2 linked regions of the Homo sapiens genome follow. The protein of the gene in region 2 purifies or fractionates together with the protein of the main gene of each other region. This does not show direct contact. Each region holds a gene or a part of one and is shown on either strand. Other genes may lie near its edges.

Region 1 (3,500 bases), on a different chromosome or scaffold from region 2:
AGTGACGAAAAGACAAGAGTACTTACGGTGCCCCTAGTTAGAGCCTTTGAAGTCTTGTTTTATGAAGAACTATACATTTTAATTCATAAGGAGAAAACCTTCTCTTTGTGTCCTTGGTGTTAAACAATCCCCCCAGTGACATCATGAATAACAGGCATTTGCAGAAGTGTGTTCACCTGAATTGTCACTTATAATAAATATGCATCTGGTGAGGACTCATGTTTCTCTTGAGCAGATGAGAATCCCAAGCAGCACATTCCCCTGGAGGAGTACGCTGCGAACCTAAAGAGCATGGTGCAGTACCTGAAGTCCGTGGACATCCCTGAGAATCGAGTCATTCTCATCACGCCGACCCCACTTTGTGAAACAGCCTGGGAAGAACAGTGCATCATACAAGGTAAACAAACCACAGCCAATCTCGGCAAATCTGGATAGGAATGCTGAGGGAGGAACTCTGATAGGACAGTGGTTTCCTGCCTGGGGCTTCTGTTTCTTAGGGGCTCGGTATGTCCATTTCAGTCTGTTTTCAATCCAAAATTATTAAATTATAGCTTCCATTATGTTATACCTGAGACCTTTTTTGACCTAGAAAAGGGATTCTGGCTTTGGATAGTCAGGAGGGAACCGCGGGCCTGGCATCTGCTGACCTTTACAGTTACCAGACTCCAGGGTGCACATGAAGGCCACTGAGATCTGTGTAGAGCTGTGGTGCTCGGCCTGCGGGGGCTGATGCTGATGTGCCTTGACTTGGAAGTCCACACCTGGGGCTTTTTACTGGTCCACAGAAGCTGGGGGTAGGAATGATCAGATAGGAGTCGCCAGCACTCCATATACTTGGGTTTCACATCCCTCAAGTGCTGTGTTTTCAATCCACCTTTGACTGAAAAACCTCTGCACATAAGTGGACCTTCACGGTTCAAACCTGTGTTGTTCAAGGGTCAGCTGTATGTTAATGTTGAAAATGTGCATTATGGAAGTTCTCTTTTTTTTTTTTTTTTGGAGATAGAGTCTGGCTCTGTCAGCCAGGCTGGAGTGCAGTGGCACGATCTCGGCTCACTGCAACCTTTGCCTCCTGGGCTCAAGCAATTCTGCCTCAGCCTCCTGAGTAGCTGGGATTATGGGTGTGCACCACCACGCCCGGCTAATTTTTGCATTTTTAGTAGAGACGGGTTTCACCATGTTGGCCAGGCTGGTCTCGAACTCCTGACCTCAGGTAATCTGCCCGACTCAGCCTCCCAAAGTGCTGGGATTACAGGCGTGAGCCACCGTTCCTGGACTGGAAGTTTTCTAAGCTGCCCAGAACTCAACATTCTAGGACAAATGACTGGCTTTGCAACACAGAACAGCTATTTCTCAAAGTGTGGTCTGACTCTGAGTTAACTGGGATTTTTAGGTAGATTTCTGGACCCATTTTCAGCACTCCAGATGTTTCTTACACACACCACAGCACACATACCACAACTTCATGGAAGGCTGTTATTGTCCCTACTTTACCAGTGGAGAAATGGAGTCTTAGAGAGGCTAAGTAACCGGCCCAAGATCACACAGCCAGCAACACAACCAGGAATCAAATCCAGCAAGTGTGACTTCACAGCTCAAGTCCTTACTGTTGTATGAGTTTACTGTTGAGTGGGGTTGTAGCTATGTCCCTTGCTCTCAAAGGGCCTGTCATCCTTAGAGAAGGATCCAATGCGTTCTCAAGTCACAAACAGCATATGCCAAGGGGTGCCACACACCGGAGGCACAGACAAACGGGGAGAAACCCCAGCCTGCGGGACGTGGTGACAGTAGGTTCTGGGCATCACATCAGGGCAGAGGGGCCCTATTGCTGTGCATGAGACACCAGAGTGTTCTGCAGGGAAGGGGAGGTGTTTAAGGCCCACAAAGCTCCCCTGGAGACAACTTCAGAGCCCCAGCTTGCTTCTGGGCCTGCAGCCCTAACTGCTTTGGGGGGCAGTGTCATCTTGGCTTTAACAAAAGGGGAAAAATGTTACATAGCATGGTCCACAGAAGCTGTTTAGACTTCTTTTTGTCTACTGTTTCCCAGGAAAATAATATATATGAAATTCTGAATGTTTAATTTCATTTCCCCTTTCTAGCCTTGAATGTAGCCCAATGCAGACTTTTTAAAAGGTCAGTGATGGGCAAAGCAGGTAGAGGAGGGGTCACATCTCAATAACTGGTCCCCTAGAAATTCAGCAGGTTATTTTTTGAGATGGTCTTGCTGTGTCACCCAGGCTGTGTAGGGCAGTGGATTACTCATAGCTCACTGCAGCCTCCACCTCTGGGCTCAGGTGATCTTCTTGCCTCAGCCTCCCAAGTAGCTGGAACCACAGGCATGTGCAACCATGCTCAGCTAATTTTTTAAATTTTTTTGTAGGGATGGGGTAGCTAGTTATAATCTAGGTGAATTTTATAAACAATTGATCCCAAGTATGAATCAAAGCTGGTGAATAGTTTCTTCGCTGTGATGTAGAGCCTGGGCCAGCATAGGTCCTCCTGTGGCCCGCATCCAGTTGCCCATATCCTCATGCTTTCTCTTTAATACCATTCTGTAGTCCGCCTCTCGCCAGCCCTCACTGTCCTGTTTGCAGCCTCCTGAGCCTTCTCCCCTAGCCCCAGCCCCACCTTCCAAACCAACCTAGCACAATCCCCAGATACTGCACTCCAGCCTTCCCTGGTGCAGCTCCCTGGGAGGATGAGGCAGCCTGCACTTGTGTTAGATACACTCAATCGTTCTGTGCTAGCTGCTTTGCTGGTGTTTAGTCTCTTAATCCTGCCAATATTCCTGCAACTAGGTAGGCACTGTCATCATAAGAATGCAGAAAGCTTCAGGACGGTTAAGCTGTTCAGGCACACCGCTATTTAGTGAAAATTGTAGGCATCAAAACGAAGGTCTCTTTGTCTAAAGCCGACAAATGATTTTGCTGTGTTGCGGTCCAGCTGTTACATGTAAGAAGCCAGCGGTGTCAGCGCAGCGTTCAGCTTCCATGGCCTGGCATTTCCTACTAGTGCAGCCCTTACCAGCCCCCAGCCCAGCTCCTGCAGCCGGCACTCTCCAAGCAGCCCAGCCCTCCTGGGCCTTTCCTGCCTCTCTGCCTCTGTTCAAGGTGTCCTCTAGAACATCCTCCCTGGCGCCTCAGAAGATTCCGGTTACCACTGAAGGCTCCTTCTTCCCACTGCACCTTGTCCTCTGCTGGGTAGAGCAGCACACCAGTAACCTGCAAGGCTCATCAACATATACCCTAAACCCCGGGGCTGGCCCAAGTGGGGTCAATATTTAATGGCATTTTGAAACTGTCTAGATGAGTGGAGCAGAACTTACACAAGGGCCAGCACTTGGGTTTACCAACTGCCACCTCTATTTCTTCTCTTCAATAGGTTGCAAACTAAATCGCCTGAACTCTGTTGTTGGTGAATATGCCAATGCGTGTTTACAAGTGGCCCAAGACTGTGGGACTGACGTACTTGACCTGTGGACCCTGATGCAGGACAGCCAG
Region 2 (3,707 bases):
CTGGAGCATCTGTGGAAGTTCCAGGAAAGCGCTGGGGGAGGTGGCATGCCCGCTGCCTAATTCCCCCGTGGACCCGCCGCCTTAGGTTTCTCAGAAGCAGGGCTGAGCAGCTTGGAGCAGTGGGCTCCGTGGGAGCTCCCGGACTCCCCTAGCTCCCACCTCATCAGTGAGGGAAGAAGTGCTCCTTCTGCCCTCGGCAGAGGGGAGTCAGGGACCCAGGCTGCCCCTCTCAACTGCAATGGTACCTCCTCCCGGCTCTGGCCCAGCAATGCTACTCTCCAAACCTTCCTAGACATAAGGTTTCCTTTTAAACCAGGACACCCATGCTGTGACTGTTACCCAGAGCTTCATTTCTTGTTTGTTTGTTTGTTTAGGTAGATCATAGCTGCTCAGTTTTTTCCTCCGGAGGTTACGGACTACATAGACTTCTTTTCTTGGCTCCAGACTGATGGTGGTGGGTGGGTGGGGCGGGGGGTATGAAATACAGAATGTGGCCCGTCTACATCGCCATCACTTTATTGTACTGTCACCCTTAATTTAACTATAAATACTACGGTGGGGGCTAGTCGCGGGCGGCCTCGGGCTGCTGGGCTGTGCGCGCCCTGACCCCAGACGCCGACCCTCCCGGCTCTGTACACTATTTACAGCTCCTCGTTCCTCTTTCTCGACCCCCTCCCGCAAGGCAGCGCGTGTGCAAGAAAGTAGCATCGTCTGTCTGTGCAAGTCCTTCGAGTTAGGTAAGTAATACGGGCAAGTGTCCCGCGGCCGTCAGCTGTCCGAGTCCAAATCGCTTTTACCTTCCTCTTCCCTCTTCTCCGGTGACGCCTTCGACGACGACGTCTTGTTCCACTTCTCCGCGTTCTCCGACTCCTCTGATGAGGACCGCTTCTGCCGCCTCCATTTGGCGCGGCGGTTCTTAAACCAGACCTGTTGCGCAACGGAGGACAAAACAGTTCAGATCAAAGGCGCGCTTCCCCCAGTCCCGGGGCACCCGGGGAGCTTGGTGTGGCGGCGGGACACCCCGCGCAGGCCAACAAAAGGAGGGGAGCCGCTCGCTCCCGCTTCCGCGTTTTCATTCAACTTCCTGGGCCTAAAGCGCCCTCCAGCAGCCTGCGGGCCGCCATCGGGATGTTTTTAAAGTGCGGGGAGAGCCAAGCAGGGCTGGGCAAACCCGACTGGGGCCCCACCTCGCGGGGAAGGACCGCTAGGCGCCCACGGCAGGCCCCGGCGCCTACCTCCACTTTCTCCTCGCGGAGGTGCACTTTCCGGGCCAGCTGCTCGCGCGTGCCCACGTCCGGGTACTTGGTCTCCTGGAAGAGGTTCTCGAGAGCTTCGAGCTGCTCGTCAGTGAAGATGGTGCGGTGCCGCCGCTTCCGCCGACAGTGCAGCTGGTTGAGAAGCTGCAGCTCGGTGCGCGACAGCGTGCCCACGTTCATGTAGGGCAGCATCTGGTGCGGTACCGGGGACACCAGCACCGAACCGGGGCCCTCGTAGCCTGCGACAGAGTGGGGCGCACGGTCAGCCGCCCGCCCTCGCCACCGCACGCATGCACGCCCGCCAGCCCCCGACCCTCTTCCACTTAGAAGTCGTCTGCAAGGGGATGCTGAGAATTGGGGGTGCACGGGAATCAGGGGTGCAGGGAAAAGGAGGAGGCGTGTTAGAGCATCCATCCGCACACCCGCCAAAGCCAGTAAGAGAATTCAAAACAAAACAAAACAAAACAAAACCCAGTTTCCCCGGGCAGGCACTGAATTCCAGTTTTCGCGAACTCTGGCCAAAAGTTTGCAGCAAGAAGTTTGCAAACTCCTGCGCCCGATCGGCAAAAGCGGAGGGGGGAGTTGCAAGAGGAGCAAAGTTTGAGGAAGGTGAATTAACCAACCGGCTCCATGGGCTAAGGACCGCAGTGGGCGGCAGAGGCCGGAGCGAGCGCGACCCTACCTGGGGGCGTCGGGACGCAGGAGCACTGCTGGGCGCCCAGCGGCGGCACGGCCCCGCAGCAGGCCGGGCCCACGGGCGCCGCCTGCACGTGCAGCTGCCCGTAGAAGTAGTTGTTGTAGCCGAGGCGGGAGCCGCTGACCGCGGCCGGGAGGCCCGCGCCGCCGGGGGCCACGGGGCGCGGGTAGAAGGCGCCATAGTCCGAGGAGGCGCCGCCGCTGGCGCCGTAGAGCGAGTCCCCGTGCAGGGCCGGGAAGACGACGGGAGCCGCCGCGCTGTGCGCCACCGGCAACACCGAGTCCTTGCAGCGCGGCCGGGCGGCTAGGATGTTGTCGATGCTGAACATGCTGGCGGGCATCCCCGAGCCCCGCGTCGGGACCGGGGGGCGGCGGGAACGCGCCGAGGACAGAGCCTTAAAGTGGGGGGGTCCACTCTCCTCCAGCCGCCGACCAAACCGAAAGAGAGCGCCGGCGAGCGCGCAGCCCTGCGCCCCTCCCCGCCCCCTGCGTCCGCTCTCCCTCCTCCCGCCCTCCCCTAGCCGCAGCGTTCGCTGAACTCAACCCGCGGGTAGGACGGAGCTCAGACCAGCTGAACCTCTTGTTGGTTTTATACTGAGTCGACGTCATCCTGGATTTAGTTCCTGGTAATATGCAGATGACAAACAGAACCAGATTTGGCCCTTTCTTTTCCTTTGGGTGGGGGAAGAGGGTTGGGGGGAGGGGGAGAGGTGCCAAGGGGAGGGGGTTACAAGGCCTGAAAAGAGATTGTGGATTGCGAATTAATGAAATTAACCTAATCTTTTCCATTCGGCAGCCGGGCCGCGGGCCGGCCGAGCTGGGCGGGCGGCCTAATTGCCTTGGTTAATCTCATTAATTCCTTTGTGCCGCCGCAGTTAACAACTCCCTCCGCCCGAGCTCTCCACCCCCACCCTTTTTTCTCAGATTGGGTCCTATTATTGGGTGCGATTTCCTCTGCCTGTAGCTCAAATTCATTGTGGACGATTTTACTTTGGGGCTACTTTTTTCCCCCTTTCGGAATTGGTTTTGTTTTAGAAAATGTGAGGGGCTGCATCCCCTCTCAAGCAGGATTGAAAATTCCACCACTCCTCCGCGCCCCCACGTACTCACCGCCTGATTTACCTCTTTTTTAAATCTTGAGTTTCTCTCCCGAATGGAACTTGTTAACCCCCCCAAAAAACTTTTGGTTTTGTAAAATCCAAATTTTGTAAAGGCAAAAACGACTAAAGGAGGGGTGCATCGTGCTTCTTAAAAAGATTTTTTTTTCCAGCCACTCTGGGTCTGAAAACTACCATGGCAGTCCCTAGGTCCTACACAGCGAAGACCAAATTCAGCCGCTCTTTAAAATTCGCCACCAAGAGTTGCAGTCTGAAGCGGTGCTTCTAGCTGCTCCCAGCGTGGGTGTCGGTAGTTTTTGTGCTTTTAAAAAATTAGTTTTGGAAATGTGGTGCCTTCTCTCCCAAACTATTTTTTTGATTTTCAATCCAGATGGGGTCTTTGGGACTTCCCTATCTTCTTCCCCAATAATTGGGTCGCATTTTTCCTTACGACCTGCTGGCTGCCGGTAGGCCTGCCCTTCCGCCTGGCAGGCCCAGAGTGGATTCCCTGGGCCGCAGTGGCCTGGACGATGGCCGGGTCTGATAGCGGCAGGCGGCCGCGATGATTTGCGGGATTCTCGGCATGGCACGGCCAGCCTGCCCGAGCCACGGGAGGCGCAGCCAGCCCACCACTCACGGCAAGCAGGCGGCCGAGCGC

Evidence for each region.
Region 1: the proteins of GSC (region 2) and IAH1 purify together in Homo sapiens (affinity purification with mass spectrometry; one large-scale study listed by BioGRID and IntAct). This does not show direct contact.

Annotation. Positions count from the first base shown.
Region 1 is NC_000002.12:9,481,051-9,484,550, forward strand, and holds part of IAH1 (isoamyl acetate-hydrolyzing esterase 1 homolog), read left to right. Parts: intron 1-235; coding exon 236-397; intron 398-3,381; coding exon 3,382-3,500. UniProt on the Homo sapiens protein: Probable lipase.
Region 2 is NC_000014.9:94,767,723-94,771,429, forward strand, and holds GSC (homeobox protein goosecoid), read right to left. Parts: upstream 2,392-3,707; 5' UTR 2,294-2,391; coding exon 1,939-2,293; intron 1,496-1,938; coding exon 1,236-1,495; intron 928-1,235; coding exon 769-927; 3' UTR 501-768; downstream 1-500. UniProt on the Homo sapiens protein: Regulates chordin (CHRD). May play a role in spatial programing within discrete embryonic fields or lineage compartments during organogenesis.